4 linked regions of the Homo sapiens genome follow. The protein of the gene in region 2 purifies or fractionates together with the protein of the main gene of each other region. This does not show direct contact. Each region holds a gene or a part of one and is shown on either strand. Other genes may lie near its edges.

Evidence for each region.
Region 1: the proteins of EIF3L (region 2) and EIF4ENIF1 purify together in Homo sapiens (affinity purification with mass spectrometry, with the first as the bait; one large-scale study listed by BioGRID). This does not show direct contact.
Region 3: the proteins of EIF3L (region 2) and LARP1 fractionate together in Homo sapiens (co-fractionation; one large-scale study listed by BioGRID). This does not show direct contact.
Region 4: the proteins of EIF3L (region 2) and PRRC2B purify together in Homo sapiens (affinity purification with mass spectrometry; 2 studies listed by BioGRID and IntAct, with this or other methods). This does not show direct contact.

Annotation. Positions count from the first base shown.
Region 1 is NC_000022.11:31,455,343-31,459,571, forward strand, and holds part of EIF4ENIF1 (eukaryotic translation initiation factor 4E transporter), read right to left. Parts: intron 3,309-4,229; coding exon 3,133-3,308; intron 646-3,132; coding exon 510-645; intron 1-509. UniProt on the Homo sapiens protein: EIF4E-binding protein that regulates translation and stability of mRNAs in processing bodies (P-bodies). Plays a key role in P-bodies to coordinate the storage of translationally inactive mRNAs in the cytoplasm and prevent their degradation.
Region 2 is NC_000022.11:37,882,988-37,887,946, forward strand, and holds part of EIF3L (eukaryotic translation initiation factor 3 subunit L), read left to right. Parts: intron 1-3,777; coding exon 3,778-3,858; intron 3,859-4,959. UniProt on the Homo sapiens protein: Component of the eukaryotic translation initiation factor 3 (eIF-3) complex, which is required for several steps in the initiation of protein synthesis.
Region 3 is NC_000005.10:154,761,148-154,765,376, reverse strand, and holds part of LARP1 (la-related protein 1), read right to left. Parts: intron 1-4,229. UniProt on the Homo sapiens protein: RNA-binding protein that regulates the translation of specific target mRNA species downstream of the mTORC1 complex, in function of growth signals and nutrient availability.
Region 4 is NC_000009.12:131,483,857-131,488,085, reverse strand, and holds part of PRRC2B (protein PRRC2B), read right to left. Parts: intron 3,401-4,229; coding exon 3,296-3,400; intron 3,139-3,295; coding exon 2,946-3,138; intron 2,422-2,945; exon of another isoform or gene 2,336-2,421; intron 2,002-2,335; coding exon 1,904-2,001; intron 920-1,903; coding exon 792-919; intron 231-791; coding exon 1-230.

The DNA.
Region 1 (4,229 bases), 6.4 Mb from region 2:
ATTAATCTGTTCCAGTAAAGAAACATGCCTTCGACAGTATTTTTCTTTCTTTCTTTTTTTTTTTTTTTTTCTTTGAGATGGAGTTTCGCTTTTTCGCCCAGGCTGGAGTGCAGTGGCGCAATCTCGGCTCACTGCAACCTCCGCCTGCCAGTTTCAAGCGATTCTCCTGCCTCAGCCTCCTGAGTAGCTGGGACTACAGATGCCCGCCACCACGCCTGGCTGATTTTTGTATTTTTAGTAGAGATGGGGGTTTCACCATGTTGGCCAGGCTGGTCTCAAACTCCTAACCTTGTGATCTGCCTGCCTTGGCCTCCCAAAGTGCTGGGATTACAGGCGTGAGCCACTGCACCCGGCCCCTTCAACAATATTAAAAGGACACAAATTGAAGGCTTTTCAGTTGTCCAGAGACCCTTTGACCCTAATTGACTCCTGACTAATGAAGATAAAATGAACCATATCAGGGAAAAACCCAGGTTTACCTTCAAGGGCAGAATCTGAAGCCATTTTACCTGCAAGTCTCTCTAGCTCTTCATGTGGTGTTGACCCAAGACTGCTGGATCGGCTTCCTGATCTGCTCGGGTTAGAGAACCACCTACTGAACCGACTGGCAGAGACTGACCCTTCTCCCAAAACATCTTCTATCATCTGAAGAAAAAGACAATAAAAACTAATAGTTTCTAGATGAAAAAGGACAAGAAGGTTTAAATCTTATGAAAGGGTCACTTACTTTGAAACTTCCTTTCATGCTCGTGACCTGAAGATAAATACTCTCAGAACCTAGGAATTTGAACACCTTTTTCTTCCTCCATCCTGGGTAATTTCTGAATAACCCAAACTTGAGTATAACCATCTACTTACTTTCCTTTTTTATTTTTTATTACTTTTTTTTTTTTTTTTTTGAGACAGAGTCTCGCTCTGTCACCCAGGCTGGAGTGCAGTGGCACGATCTCGGCTCACTGCAAGCTCCGCCTCCCGGGTTCACACCATTCTCCTGCCTCAGCCTCCTGAGTAGCTGGGACTACAGGCGCCTGCCACCACGCCCGGCTAATTTTTTGTATTTTTAGTAGAGACGGGGTTTTACCGTGTTAGCCAGGATGGTCTCGATCTCCTGACCTTGTGATCCGCCCGCCTTGGCCTCCCAAAGTGCTGGGATTACAAGCATGAGCCACCACACCCGGTCTACTATTTTTTTAAGACAGTCTCGCTCTGTTGCCCAGGCTGAAGTGCAGGGGTGCAATCTTGGCTCACTGCAACCTCTGCCTCCCAGGTTCAAGTGATTCTTATGCCTCAGGCTCTCGAGTAGCTGGGACTACAGGCATACGCCACCATATGCCTGGCTATTTTTAATTTTATTTTTAGTAGAGATGGGTTTTTACCATGTTGGCCAGGCTTGTCTCGAACTTCTGACCTCAAATGATCCACCTGCCTTGGCCTCCCAAAGTGCTGGGATTACAGGCATGAACCACCACTACTTTCTAAGAATATAAAGCAAAGCCTCTATGCTACAAAAAGGTTTTTGGGTTTCTATCCTTTGCCTCAGGAGTAAATCCACGTACTACCAAATGTTCTCAGAGAACAGTGTCAATGCCACAGCATTCCACTGACAAGCTGATGAGTGACCTTCAACTAAATATCAAGTATGGGGAACTGATGAAAGAAAACCATTGCTTCAAACTTAGTGGTTTCAAGGTTGTAATGAACATTATGAAATTCAATCTTGAGAGTTTCAGAAGCCAAAGGCTAAAAAAGCAGAGCTCATAAAGACTGTAATTCCAAGTCAAAGTTTAGAAAAAGTATGATTGTGGAAGATGAAATTTCAACTGATCTCTAATTTCTGTTTGAGATTAATAGAGAGTTTTCAGGTGTTTTCTGTTTCCAAATCCAACCTCCATAGTTTACATTTAATAAGGACAATTAAATAACACACTATGAACAATAAATTGCTTTGGTAGAAATTATGAAATAGTGCCAATCTTTCTTAAAAACTAGATTTAAGCATTTAAAAAATTTTTCAATTCAAATCATACCATAAATTCAGTCAAATATCCAAATTGATTTTTTGCAGTATTCTTATCAATATTTAGAAAAGACAAGATAGAGCAAACATCTATCCAAAAATCAGACATATCCTTGAAAATAAGTCATATACTTTCACGTCAATCCCACTGATAAACAGAAAACATGCTTTTTCAAAAACTGGTACATGGATGACAGAATTAGTGACTGTTTTATTTGAAATCTGGAACCCACAGTTTCCAAAGTTAAGCAGGGGAAGCTTAGATTTATTCTTTGTTCTTATCTGGAAGAATGTTTTCATAATCCATACCCAAATTAAGCCACAATATACTTCTTTTGAAGGGATTTTAATTCAAGACCCTAATTATTGTTTCCAGAATTTCTATTTTCAGAGGAATTATCTAGACAATTTCAATCACATTCCACCTGTAGATGCTCATACCTTAAATAATGCTGACTTTTAAGTGCACTAATTTTGTATTAATTAAAATATAAGATAAGCATGATACATCACTGTGAAAAATTGGGGAGTGTATCCAAAATATAAGCATCTTAGTGATAAACAGGAATTCTAAAAATAACTTTAAAAAGCCAGGTGCGGTGGCTCACGCCTGTAATCCCAGCACTTTGGGAGACCAAGACAGGAGGATCACAAGGTCAGGAGTTCAAGACCCGTCTGGCCAACATAGTGAAACCCCATCTCTACTAAAAATACAAAAATTAGCTGGGCATGGTGGCACACACCTGTGATCCCAACTACTCAGGAGGCTGAGGCAGAAGAATCGCTTGAACCCAGGAGACGGAGGTTGCAATGAGCCAAGATCGTGCCACTGCACTTCAGCCTGGGTGACAGAGTAAGATTCCAACTCAAAAAAAAAAAAACAACAAAAAAAGAATTTTTAGTCTAACACCACCAGCTTAAAAAAGAGTTAACTGGTACAAAAATCTCATATTATCCATTAAGCCTCTCAAAACAAAGCCAACAAAAATTTAAATATGTAAGAATAAAAGCCAAAAACCCCAAAAGCATCTAGCAAAACAACACTTTCAAACCGATGTCTTAAATACTCAGGTCAAATTTAACCACACATTTTTTAAGTGTGCTGCTACACTCACCGAAGCCAAGCATGGCACCTTATCAAGGTTAAAGAACTCATTAAAGTCAAAGTCTCCTGGGGACTGCTCAGGCAAGACAGCATCCCTTGGCACTTCCTGATCAGCCGCAGGCTCCTGTGCAAGGATGACCTCCACTTCATCCTCTTCGGCCACTCCTCCATTGCACTCTACTATACCTGAAAGCAAAACCAGGACAAAAACCGTCTGATAAGTAAATCACTCCAGTGTCCCTCTGTGGCTTCAGCCATCAGTATACATGTAGAAGAGCCACACATGACTTAAAAAGCAGACTTCTCGTGCAGGTACTGTACTTGCAAGAATAAAACAGTCCCCCTTCTACGGGAGGCAGAAAAGGAAAAAAGCCTTAATAAAGCTAGAATACCAATGGGATGTGGGGAGGATTATGGTTCCCTTCGTGGGAACTTCATATTTTCTATAGTGGAGGGGGGTCTTTTTTTTTTTTTTTTTTTTGAGATGGGGTCTTGCTCTGTTGCACAGGCTGGAGAGTAGTGGCACGATCACAGCTCACTGTAGTCTCTACCTCCTGGGCTCAGGTGATCCTCCTGCCTTAGCCTCCAGAGTATCTGGGACCACAGGTGCACACCACCATGCCTGGATAATTTTTTAATTTTTTGTAGAGACTGAGTCTCGCTAAATTGCACAGCCTGGACTTAAACTGCTGACCTCAAGTGATCCTCCTGCCTTGGCCTCCCAAAGTGCTAGGATTACAGTAGTGAGCCACTGTGTCCAGCACCATGCCTAGTTCTTTTTCTAGTGATTTTTTTTTTAAAGGATAGTCTTTGCAAGTCTCTTACTGCTTAAAAATGGAACCAAATTAATTTAGCTCTGCTTCTGCCCATGCACCTGTAGCACCACTTTCAGTCAGGGCTCAGCAACCTAAGGTATTTATGAGAAACCTGGCATGAGGGCAATTTTCACTTGCCTACAGGTTGGTTGTTGTAGCTCATCCTTCAAGGCGAAATTCAAATGTGACCTTCTCTGGGAAGCTTGCCCTGCCTACCCATTTTTGCCCTACCTAGTAAAATTAATTGCTACCTTCTCTATAATCCTTATGTCATCTCTGAGTACTTGTCACA
Region 2 (4,959 bases):
AGACTCCACTTCAAAAAAATAAAAAAAGGCTGGGCATGGTGGCTCACGCCTGTAATCCCAACACTTTGAGAGGCGAAGGTGGGCGGATCACTTGAGGTCAGGAGATCAAGACCAGCCTGACCAACATGAAGAAACCCCATCTCTACTAAAAATACAAAATTAGCCAGACGTGGCAGCGCATGCCTGTAATCTCAGCTACTCCGGAGGCTGAGGCAGGAGAATTGCTTGAACCCGGGAGGTGGAGGTTGCAGTGAGCCAAGATCGTGCCATTGCACTCCAGCCTGGGCAACAAGAGTGAAACTCCGTCTCAAAAAAAAAAAAAAAAAAAAAACTTGCATGATCCCAGCACTTTGGGAGGCTGAGGCAGGCAGATCACGAGGTCAGGAGATCAAGACCATCCTGGCTAACACGGTGAAACCCTGTCTCTACTAAAAATACAAAAAATTAACCGGGCATGGTGGTGGGCGCCTGTGGTCCCAGCTACTCGGGAGGCTGAGGCAGGAGAATGGTGTGAACCCGGGAGGCGGAGCTTGCAGTAAGCAGAGCTCGCGCCACTGCACTCCAGCCTGGGCGACAGAGCGAGACTCCATCTCAAAAAAAAAAATTGCAGGATATAAACTTCACCATTTTAAAATGTGCAATTTGGCCAGGTGTGATGCTTTACACCTATAATCCCAGCACTTTGGGAGGCCAAGGCTGGCAGATCACTTGAGACCAGGAGTTCAAGACCAGCCTGGCCAACATGGTGAAACCCCATCTGTACTAAAAATACACAAATTAGCTGAGTGTGGGGGCGCATGCCTGTAATACCAGCTACTTGGGAGGCTGAGGCACAAGAATCGCTTTAGCCTAGGAGGTGGAGGTTGCAGTGAGCCAAGATCATGCCACTGCACTCCAGCCTGAGTGACAGAGTGAGACCCTGTCTCCATAAATAAATAGAATGAATGAATGAATGAATGAAGAATTCAGTGGTTATTAGTATGTTCACAGTGTTTTGCAACCATCTCCACTGTCTAATTCCAAAACATTTCTGTCCCCCCAAAAAGAAACTCCCTACCCACTAGCAGTCACTCGCAGTTCCCCAGTTCCCCCTTTCTGCCATCCCCTAGCAAACCCCTAATCTGCTTTGGTCTCTCTGCATTTGACATTTCAGATAAATGGAATCATGTAATATATGGACTTTTGTGTTTGGGTCCTTTCACTGAGCATGTCTTCAAGTTTCATCCATATTATAGCATGTGTCAGTACATTCCTTTTATAGCTGAATAATATCCCATGTATTAATGTACTGCATTTTGTTTATCCATTTGTTGTTGCACATTTGGGGTTTTTGGTTTTTGGGGGTTTTTTGTTCCTTTTTTCACTTTTTGGCTTATGAATAGTGCTGCTGTGAATATTCATCTAGAAGTTATTGTGTGAACATATGTTTTTAATTTTCAGATATATATCTAGTTGTGGAATTTCTAGGTCAGTTTGGGTAGTTTGTTTTTGAAAGTTCATTTTGCTTTAAAATAAATACTCTCATTTCATTTTTATGGCTTCTGGAAGACTTGGTTTTTGCCATAAGTTAGCTAGCCCGATACAAACAGATTTGCCAAAAGTAATAACACGTCAGTAGTGGAAGTTTTCCAGTGTTTTAAATCATGCTTTTATAAATCAAAGAAAACTGAGCCAGGCTTCGTAGCGTGTACTTGTAGTCCCAGCTATGGGAGAGAGTCCCTTATAGCCCCTGCCTTAGGACGCTGAGGCAGGAGGATGGCTTGAGCCCAGGCGTTTGAGGCTGCAGTGACCTAAGATCTTACCACTGCAGTGCAGCCTGGGTAACAAAGTGAGACCCTGCCTCTAAAAATAAATAAATATATAAATAAATAAAAATAAAGAAAACTTTCTCCCTTGCCAGGATCATGTCAAGCCTTTTTTTTTTTTTTTTTTTTTTTTTTTTTTAAGATAGCATCTTAATCCTCCAGTTGTCCAGGCTGGAGTGCAGTGGCAAAATCACAGCTCACTGCAGCCTCAACTCCCGGGGGCTCAGGTGATCCTCCTATCTCAGCTTCTCAAGTAGCTGGGACTACAGGACTGCACCACCACATCTTGCTAATTTTTGTATTTTTTGTAGAGATGGGGTTTTACCATGTTGCCCAGCCTGGTCTCAAATACAAACTCTTGGGCTCGGGTAGTCTGCCCACCTCTGCCTCCCAAAGTGCTGGGATTGCAGGTGTGAGCCACCATGCCTGGCCTAGTTTTTTCTCAATACCTGACATATATACGTTCTTTGGCAATTATAGTAGCCTCCTGCATTCCTCTGTCACCTCTTAATTACCAGCCTAGCTATTCTCAACTAATCTGGGTAGTTTAACAAAACATTTCTCCTAAGAATTGGCTATTTGATTATTATTTAATTGCATGTTTTACTGTTATTCCTCTGTTGCTGGTTCAGGTTTGTCTTTGGCAAAGTGCTTCTTTTTTTTTTCCTTTTTGACTCTTCATTCTTAACTTGAAAGAAATCCTATCAGAGATTTAGAACGTTCTTAGATCTTAACCTAGGGGATATAGAAAATTTTAAAGTAAAATGGTGTTCAAAATATTTTCAGCTAAAAACAAAACTTAAAGATTGGACTAATTTGCAATTTTATCAACAGTGTAGGAGCATAAACTTTTTTTTTTTTTTTTTTTTGAGATGGAGTCTCACTTTGTCACCCAAGCTGGAGTGCAGTGACGCAGTCTCGGCTCACTGCAACCTCTCCCTCCTGGGATTACAGGTGCCCGCCACTACGCCCAGCTAATTTTTAGTAGAGATGGGGTTTCACCATGTTGGTCAGGCTGGTCTTGAATTCCCAACCTCCCAAAGTGCTGGGATTACAGGCGTGAGTCACCATGCCCAGCCAGCATAAACATCTTTATTCCCAAAATAAAAAAGACGAGGCTGGGCACGGTGGCTCACGCCTGTAATCCCAACACTTTGGGAGGCCAAGACGGGCGAATCATGAGGTCAGGAGATCGAGACCATCCTGGCTAACATGGTGAAACCCCGTCTCTACTAAAAACATACAAAAAAAATTAGCCAGGCATGGTGGCGGGTGCCTGTAGTCCCAGCTACTCGGGAGGCTGAGGCAGGAGAATGGTGTGAACTCGGGAGGTGGAGCTTGCAGTGAGCCGAGATCGCACCACTGCACTCCAGCCTGAGTGACAGAGCAAGACTCCATCTCAAAAAAAAAAAAAAGACTAGAAAATAAAAGACAAAAAAAAAGTCTAGAAAATAAAAGTACAAATGAATTGATAAAAAAAATATATATAAACTAGGCCGGGCACATTGGCTCATGCCTGTAATCCCAGCACTTTGGGAAGCTGAGGCGAGTGGATCACCTGAGGTCAGGAGTTTGAGACCAGCCTGATTAACATGGTAAAACCTCATCTCTACTAAAAATACAAAAATTAGCCAGGCAAGATGGCGGGAGCCTGTAATCCCAGCTACTTGGGAAGCTGAGGCAAGAGAATTGCTTGAACCCTGGAGGCGGAGGTTGCAGTGAGCTGAGATCATGCCATTGCACTCCAGCCTGGGCGACGAGCAAAACTCCATCTCAAAAAAAAAAAGAAAAGAAAAACTCTCTAGAAAGAGTGAGTTACTGTTAACTGGTGGTGTTTTTCCAGTGGTCTTTTCCCCACCTTTACATCTAACACTCACCATCATTATCACTTGCAAGTCCATGGTGGCTCCTGGGTTAGATGGCCCTGCTCCTCCACCTGGCTGCTCTTCCCTGACTGTGCTTTCCCCCACAGGACATGATCCACATCGCGGACACCAAGGTCGCCAGGCGTTATGGGGATTTCTTCATCCGTCAGATCCACAAATTTGAGGAGGTGAGAGATCTGAGAGAAGAGGGGTTTGTTGGCTCAGGACAGAGCTTAGGAACTGAATCGAGAGTTTACTTTTTTTTAATTTTTATTCCTTTATTTATTTTGAGATGGAGTCTTGTGCTGTCACCCATGCTGGAGTGCAGCGACGTGATCTTAGCTCACTGCAACCTCTGCCTCCTGGGTTCAAGCGAGTCTCCCTCCTCAGCCTCCCGCATAGCTGGAATTACAGGTGTGTGCCACCACACCCAGCTAATTTTTGTATTTATGGTAGAGATGGGGTTTCACCATGTTGGCCAGGCTGGTCTCCAGCTCCTGGCCTCAAGTGATCCAGTCCGTCTCAGCTTCCCAAAGTGTTGGGATTACAGGCATGAGCCACCATGCCTGGCCTTTTAAATTTTTCATTTCTGTTATTAAGAAAGCCTACTGCCCTCCAGCCTGGGCAACCGAGCAAGACCCTGTCTCAAGAAAAAAAAAAAAGAAAAAGAGGCCAGGTGCAGTGGCTCATGCCTGTAATCCCAGCACTTTGGGAGGCTGAATTTGAGATCAGGAGTTCAAGACCAGCCTGGCCACATGGTGAAACCTCATGTCTACTAAAAATTAAAAAAATTAGCTGGGTGTGGTGGTGCGCACCTGTAATCCCATCTACGCAGAAGGCTGAGGCAGGAGAATGATTTGAACCTGGGAGATGGAGGCTGCAGTGAGCAGAGATCATGCCACTGCAAAAGAAAGCTTGAGGTTGGCCCTTTAAATTTTCAAGCTAGACTGGCTGGCTGCTTGGGGTTTGGGGAGTGGGGTTGGGCCTGTAGGAATTGCTGCATCAGCCTTCTCCAGAGCATCTCTTTCCAAGATCTCCCTCTGCGGGTGGCCAGCTCTCCTCTCCCTCCCTGGTATTTCCTAATATGGGTGGATTCACTGCCTGCTCTTGCCCATCCCTCCCCGTTTGGCATTGTTTTCCAACTTAGACAGGTCTGGCTAGTTCCTGTAGGCTGGAGGACAGGAAGCTCTGTTTTGACATACTTGGTGCATTCCTTGTCTTGCCCTAGGAGAGGTCTTGTGGGTCAGGCCAAACACTGTAAGGGTGTGGGTCTCTCTTTGTGGCCATTG
Region 3 (4,229 bases), on a different chromosome or scaffold from region 2:
AGAAAAATGAAGCAGGGTAAGAGGGATGGAGAGAGGGAATCCAAGGTCAGGACTTGCTAGTCTATATAGGGTGGTCTGGGAAGGCATTTCCACCACAGTGATCTGCGGGAAGAGCACTACAGAACATAAGACCCAAAGCAAAGAGTACATGACATGTTTCAGGAAGTGAGGACTGATGCTGGAAGGGAATGAGTGAAGAAGGGGCAAGTGATGAAAGATGAGGTCAGAGGTTAGGTGGACAGAGACCAGATCAAGTGCGGTCTTAGAGAACACTCTAAGGACTCTGAATTTTACTCTGCTAAGAAGTTACCAGAGGGCTTTAAGTAGGAGTGATAGGAGACCAGTTAAGAGGCTGCTGCAAAAATCTACATGAGAAATGATGATGTATGGTCCAGGCCAGCAAGAGACGAGGCGGTACAAGCATTTAGATCTGGACATAGGTTTTTTTTGTTGTTTCTTTTTTTTTTTTTTTGTGATGGAGTCTTGCTCTGTTGCCCAGGCTGGAGAGCAGTGGCATGATCTCGGCTCACTGCAACCTCTGCCTCCCAGGTTCAAGCGATTCTTGTGCCTCAGCTTCCCAAGTAGCTGGGATTACAGGTGTGCACGATGACGCCCAGCTACTTTTTGTATTTTTGGTAGAGACTGGGTTTCACCATGTTGGCTAGGCTGGTCTCAAACTCCTGACTTCAACTGACCCTCCCGCCTCGGCCTCCCAAAGTGCTGGGATTACAGGTGTGAGCCACTACGCCCAGCCAGTTTTTTTTTTTTTTTTTTTTTTTTTGAGACATGGTCTCACTGCATTGCCTAGGCTGGAGTGCAGTGGCTCTTGCTCAATATAGCCTCGACCTCCTGGGCTCAAGCAATCCTTCCACCTCAGCCTCCAGAGTAGCTCAGACCACAGGAATGCACCACCACACCCAGTTAATTTTTTTTTAAAGAGATGGGGTCTCTCACTATGTTGCCCAGGCTGGTCTTGAACTCCTGCGCTCAAGTGATCCTCCCAAAGTGCTGGGATGACTGGTATAAGCCCCCACACCCAACCTGGATGCAGCTTTTTTTTTTTTTTTGAGATGAAGTCTTGCTCTGTCACCCAGGCTGGAGTGCAATGGTGCAATCTCAGCTCACTGCAACCTCTGCCTCCCAGGTTCAAGCGATTCTCCTGCCTCAGCCTCCCGAGTAGCTGGGGATTACAGGCGCATGCCACCACGCCCAGCTAATTTTTGTATGTTTAGTAGAGGCAGGGTTTCACTGTGTTGGCCAGGCTGGTCTTGAACTCCTGACCTCAGGTGATCCACCTGCCTCGGCCTCCCAAAGTGCTGGGATTACAGGCGTGAACCACCGCACCCAGGCAGCTTTTTCTTTTTGAGACAGTCCTGCTCTGTTGCCCAGGCTGGAGTGCAGTGACACACTCATCTTTCACTGCAGCCTTTACCTCCCAAGGCTCAAGTGATCCTCCCACCTCAGCCTCCCCAGGAGCTGGGATTACAGGCACGCACCACCATGCTCGACTAATTTTTGTACTTTTTTTTTTTTGTAAGAGATGGGGTATCCCTATGTTACCCAGACTGGTCTCAAACTTCCAGGCTCAAGCAATCTGCCCACCTTGGCCTCCCACCCAAAGTGCTGGGGTTACAGGCATGAGGCACTGTGCCCGGCCAGGACACAGTGTTTAATTGTCAAAGGATGTACTAGTACATTACATGTGGGGTCACAAAAAGACATTTACTTTTTAGAGACAGGGTCTCACTCTGTCGCCCAGGCTGGAGTACTGTGGCACAATCACAGCTCACTTGCAGCCTTGAACTCCTGGGCTCACATGATCCTACCATCTCGGTCTCCCAAAGTGCTGGGATTACAGGTGTGAGCCACTGCAACCAGCCAGAAAAAAAAAAACAGAGGTGGCAAGGATGATCTTAAGGTCTTTAGTCTGAGCAATTAGAAGGACAGAGTTGCTAAACGTCTCCTGAGTCTCACTTTCCTCATCTGTGAAGTGGGAATAAAAAGAGCATCTGCTGGGCCAGGCGCGGTGGCTAACATCTGTAATCCCAGCACTTTGGGAGGCCGAAGTGGGCAGATCACCTGAGGTCAGGAGTTCGAGACCAACCCGACCAACATGAAGAAACCCCATCTCTAGTAAAAATACAAAAAATTAGCCAGGCGTGGTGGTGCATGGCTGTAATCCCAGCTACTTGGGAGGCTGAGGCAGGAGAATCGCTTGAACCCAGGAGGCATAGGTTGCGGTGAGCTGAGATCGTGCACTGCACTCCAGCCTGGGCAACGAGAGAAACTCTTTCTCAAAAAAAGAAAAAAAAAAAAAAAAAAGCATCTGCTCAGCAGATCACTTGGGCTAGAACAGGTGAGACACTCAGTAAATGCAGTAAATGGTGACTATTCCAGTACTATTACTTATCTCTGAATTATCAAGAGCCTAAATAAATTAGTTTAAGTGAAAAGCAGAGCAAAAACCATACAGAGCCCTATCTCTATCAGATCATTTATCTAGATGGCTCCTGGCTACTGTGGGACTTAATTTCCTCTGAGAAGCTTGCAACTCCATTCTAAGGCAAAGAAAAAGGCAACTTTGAGTGGCTGGAATGTATGTCTTGAGAGTAAGGTGGTTACCACTAGTTTGGAGAATAATTACAAAGTGGCCTGTAAACAAGGCCTGTCATGGAGGAATCATCTAGGTTTACTAACAGCACATCAAACTGAGATGGAGAAGTCCCATGCCATATATGACAGATCTACCAAGCTGGCTTTACAAAATTCATCTATGAAGACCCACAATCCTCCCCTCCCCACACCTAGGGCTTTGCCAGTCTAAAGGTTCAGCCAAGAAAAAAAAGGTGCCACACTAGGACTGTCCTTGATTCTGGGAACATCCTTCAGGAAGACATCCCAGGCTATTAGCCATGTGAAGTTGGCCACTTGCCCCTGGTAACTACCACAAATAGCCCTTGTTGAAAATTCAGCTAACTCCTGATTATCCACTCAGTTCCGGAAAGGCACAGATAAACCCTCAGAGTGAGTAATTACCAATATCTGGCTTTGGAATGCAATCTTCTGAAATAAAAAAAAAAACTTACATCTTACCTCTGTGTAGGAGGTTTTTTTGGTTTTTTTGTTTTGTTTTGAGATGGAGTCTTGCTCTTGTCACCCAGGCTGGAGTGCAGTGGCACGATCTCAGCTCACTGCAACCTCCGCCTCCCCGGTTCGAGCAATTCTCCTGCCTCAGCCTCCTGAGTAGCTGGGACTACAGGCACACGCCACCATGCCTGGCTAATTTTTTTGTATTTTTAGTAGAGACGAGGTTTCACTATGCTGGCCAGATTGGTCTTAAAACTCCTGACCTCATGATCCGCCCGCCTCGGCCTTCCAAAGTGCTAGGATTACAGGTGTGAACCCCCGCGCCCAGCAGGACTTTTTCAATTCATGAACTGTACTGCCCCATACTCAACAGCAATTTGACGCTCTAAACAACCTCAGCACCGGGATTAGCCCCATTCTGTGAATAAGGAAAACAGGTTAGACAAACAATCTAAGGTCACAAAGTGAGAGCAGAGAGAAGTACCCTGCCCATGTTCTAATTTAAATCCCATCACCTTCTCCCTTCACATTGATGTGCTGTTTCCCATGTTTTCACCAGCGAGGTACCAAAACTTACTTCCTTTCTTGAATCCCAGGCAAGGTAAGGCCATCCTCTCTCCTGGCCACTCCCTTAGATCACTCTGGACCAGCCAGGGAGGTTTTTGAGTCTGGACTGAGGCACCTGCTGAACCTCCAGTGGCCCCAACACCCTAATTACTCCCTTTGAGCTGTCTTGGGTTTTGCAAACAGGGGAACTCCCATCTGCCAAGCTCTCCATCTTAAAGAGGTTTTGTAGTTTCAGGCCGGCTGCTCCTCCTCCTCCTCCCACCCTGCCCACCTCCCAGAAAAGAGAATGGGTGCTCAGTAACAGCTATTAAGATTGCTTACTCCAGTTCAGGTCCCACTATAGACAGTGGGTGGGTCAGCAGAAAGACCCCGACCCTCAGGAGGTTCAGAGTTCAAGAAAGCTTGTGACTACCCTCTACCTCCCAAAGGGCCAAAAACCACTTCCTAAAAACCTTCCCCTACCTGGCAGGCACTCACTTCCGGGTTAGTATGAAACTCAAACTACCTGTGCAAAAGGAAAGGGGCCAGGCCAGCTGAAGGCTCCCGATGAAAGCTGCCTCCCACTCTCCCCTTCA
Region 4 (4,229 bases), on a different chromosome or scaffold from region 2:
GGGAGTCCAACATCTGGGAGGCACCCAGGCCAGCAGCCTGGCTGAGCTGGCCCTCGTAGACCAGGGCTTGGTTCCCGCTCATGGGCTGGTAGGGTGAGCCAGACTGCGGCTTCACCATCTCCAAGGGCTGCATGCCTGGGAACGCCGAGTATGGAGGCTTCAAGGCTGTGCCCCCAGAGAGGATCATGGTGCTGGGCGGTGACAGGCTGGGGTGCATGTACACCTGAGATCTGCAAAAGCCAGACAGATGGTCGGGATCAGGTGGATGAGTCCAGCTGCGGATCTGGTCCCACCCTTCAGAGATCCCCGGAGAGCTTGCTAAACCACAGATCCCCGGCCCCACCCCCAGAGCGCGACTCAGAGGGTCCAGGATGGGGCCTGAGAACAAGCTCCTAGATGGCGCTGATGCTGCTGGATTAAACAAGTGAAGACATCCAGGCTGTACGAGGCACAGGACATCAGCCACAATGACTGGCAGCCACACTGACGGAGAAGCCCGCGGTGGGGAGGAGACAGGGAGTCAAGGGGAGAGGAGGAGGAAGGAGCAAGGAAAGGAGGCAAGATGACATGGAAAAGCAAAACACGGCCCACCACATATCAGCTCGCCCCAGGCCTCTCCTAGAGCACAGTTAACAACGGACTGAAGAGTGATTCAGAGCAAACTCCCACCCCTCCCCGCCCCACTGGCCCCAAAGCAGACAAGCACCAAACAGCTGCAGGACGAAGGCTGCACACAGGGCCAAGGCCCTGGCTGTGAGCTGCCAGCTCCGCAAGCTGGTACATGAGCTCACCTGAAGGGCTGCAAGGAGCTGAAGATCTCCTGGGACTGGGACACAGGAAGCCCACCCCTCAGTCCAAGCTGAGCTTGTGCCTGCAGAGATGTGTGAAGGGAGATCGGGATCTGCTGGGCAGCGGCGGCCTGTGAACGGGAAAACGGGGTCGGGGAGGTAACCGCAAGGCCCATCCAGGTGGTTCTTCCCCTCCCACCTCCCCTGCCCCTCTCCACATGGCTGCTGGAACACTGCCCAAAATTCAAATGCCAGCATGTCATTCCTGGGCTTCCCTTGCTATTGGGATAAAGCCTATAATGAAAAACTGGTAGCAACCCCAAACCACAGCATATCCCTACCCTGGAATTCTACACAGCAACAAAAATGGATCCTAGCACATACGTCAACAGAGGTGAGTTCCAAAAACATAACGCTGAATTTAACAATGCACAAAAAGAAAGATACATGCAGTCTGACCCAGTTATGCAAGAACCAAAATCTTGGTAACCAAACAATACAGCAGTTAAGAACATGTTTTTAAAAAGAGGTCAGCAGAGGCCACATCCTCCATCAGCAAGCCTGCACTTGGAGCAGATTCTGCCTGGAAGTCCACTGTCGTGGCTGTGGAGGCACATGGGTCTGAGGGGCGGCTAGACCATCCCAAAGGCCCAGCACCAGCATTAGAGGGGAGACTTCCAAAAATCACCCCTTGGCAGCACAGAAAGTATGCCAGTCCTGCATAAATAACCAACGCCTGCTCATTTCTAAGACTACCTCTTTCTAATGCATCCATGCCTGGGAGTTTAGGCCTTTCTTCTCTTCATCAGAAGGATACCTGATCACCAAAGAAAATTCCATTTTAGCTAATTCCCCGGCTAGGACACAGGAGGGAGAACTTTGAGAAAGGAAAACTAAGCAGAGTCTGGAGCAGCCAACTCCACTCCTCTTCCCTGTCTCGATTATTCGCTTAACAAATGCCTCCTGGCTGCCGTGGCGGGCCAGGTGCTGGTCACCACATGTGAGGGGGATGGAAAACCAGACAGACAATGAGAAATAGATGAGCAAGCCAATTCCGCCCTGCACTGGCTCCTCCCCACCACCCCCAGCCAGGCCACCTGGCTAGCTGCTGTCACCTGTTGGTAACTCTGCTGCTGAGGTATCGTTTGAGGAACCAGCCGGGGCTGACTTGCAAACACATGGCCATCCAGGTACAGGGGCGGGAGGTGGCTGCCTGGAAACAGAGCGGCAAAAGGGACGTAGAAGAGGATCAAGCCTCACTACTTCTCAATGTCCCTGAGGGAAACAGTCTACAGGTCTGCTCTACCCAGGGGACTCAGTGGGGACGAGGGCGTGTGTACAGAGGCTGCTAGGTTCCCTGTGTGCCGGAAGCACACGCCTGCTCACAACACGCCTGGCACGCACCTCAGGGAACGTAGGGAGGGTGCAGCGTCAGACCTAGGAGGAGGGAGGAGGCAGGTGGGCTCTGGCCTACCCTTCCCACCTCCCACTCACCAACTACCCCAGACACTCGAAGGGGCATTCTACTTTAACCAGGGCTGCCTTGGTCTCTCAGTCACTGTCCTCTTCATCTCCCTGCTATTGAGTCCACAGTGGAGGGTCAGAAGGATCTATTGGAATTACATCACTGAGACTGGCAGCTGGGCCCTCAAAACCCCCACGCTTCCCCTTGGGGACACTGGCACACGATAAGGATGGCAGCAATCAGGACAAAAGTAGCTGCCAGTGACTGAGGGCTCTGTTGATACAAAGCCCTTTCCAGGTAAGACCTGGCCTCACGGGTGTGGCCACCCCACGGAGTTTCATGTAAGAGAGGAGAGGACACTGTGGCTCGGCAAGAGCTGCTCACCAGCCGAGGCGACACGGCTCCAGCACATGACCCAGGTCTGACTCAAAGTCAAGCCTTTGCTCGCTCCTGTCACCAGTAGGCAGGAGTGCCTCGCTGTTATCCCCCAGTTCTGTTTCCCAGCGTGGGGAAGCAGGACGTGCACATTACCTGCAGCACATGGGAGCTACGACCACTGGGCCTAAAAACAAGTTGCTACTTCTACATGCTACTTAAGACAAGGCCAGGAGGTGACATTCGGGGCTGTTAATCCGTTTTTCTTGATAATAAATGGAGAAGGACCCCAAGGCCTTGCTCAGGGGATGAGATACCTGGCATAGAAGCAGAAGGTGCTACAGAGGCCACAGGCATGGGTGGCATGGACACTCCACCGAAGGAGCTGTAGTTGACCCCGCTGGAGGCACCCACAGAGGATGGAGGCTGGATGCCTGAGCCAGCGCCGCCTGGAGAGCTCTGCTCCGGCAAACTGGGGGAGTTTTCCCAAGCCTTGCGCGCAGACTCCATCTTCAGAAGCAAGGGGAGGGGGAGGGATGAAAATTACTATCACGCTGGCAGTGGACAGAGCCAATCTAAGCTTTAGGGGTTCGGGGACTCCTCCCTTCTGCCTCTTTGTAAGCTAAGGTACTGGGTGGGCCCTCACCCAGCTCAGGGCTGGTGTTACCTTCAGAGTAAGGTCGGCGGTGGGGAAGGACATTGGGGAGAGACCGATGGCCCTCTGGATGTGATGGTCCCGCCGCAGGATGGGGATACTCTGTGTTAACCCTGCCTGGAGAGGAGGAAAAGGAAACCATGGAACACAAACAGGTGCAGAGATGGCTTTGCCCAAACCCATCCATGGCTCTCCTGAACACACTCAAGGCTCGTCCAAATGTATCTATGACTTGCCCAAACCCATCCATGGCTTTTCCCAAAAGCACCTACAGCTCCGTGTCTATGAATTGTCCAAATGCATCTTCAGTATTGGCCACATGTACCCAAGACCACCCAGATGAAACTGATGGCAGCCAGGACCATGACTGATCTCCTGGAGATGGCTGCCTCCATCAGTTTCCTCCACACAAGTCTGCAGAGAGCCACCCCCATATCCACACTCCATAGTGCCCTCCAGACAGGGAGAGCCATGTCCCGGCAGTATAAATATGGACTGGCAGCCCGCACACAAACATCTGGTTCAGAAGGCACCTGCCACCTGGCCTGGAGATGCCCTGGGCCAGACAGGGAAGGCTGTGCCCCTCAGCAAACTGAAAAAGAGGGCTCTGGTAACAGAGGCTGGAAATGCAACAGTGCCCCCGCTTCCTGCAGATCCCCGGTGTCCATCTGCATGTGACAGAGACCGCAGACTCTCGAGTAAAGAACCTCGTAGAGCCCAGCACTTCCAAAACATTGTTTTCATTCAACACCTATGAATATTGTACAGCACTCACATTCCTTGGAATCCTCTGGGAAACGCTGCCCAAATGATACTCGTTCATTCAGCATATGCACTAGCACCCACCCCTGCAGGTGGTGAGGACAGAGCAGTGAACCAGATGTCACTGCGACAGCCTCAGCTGCAGCCCCGAGTGGCCACAACAGATGCAACTGCCAGCTCCTGA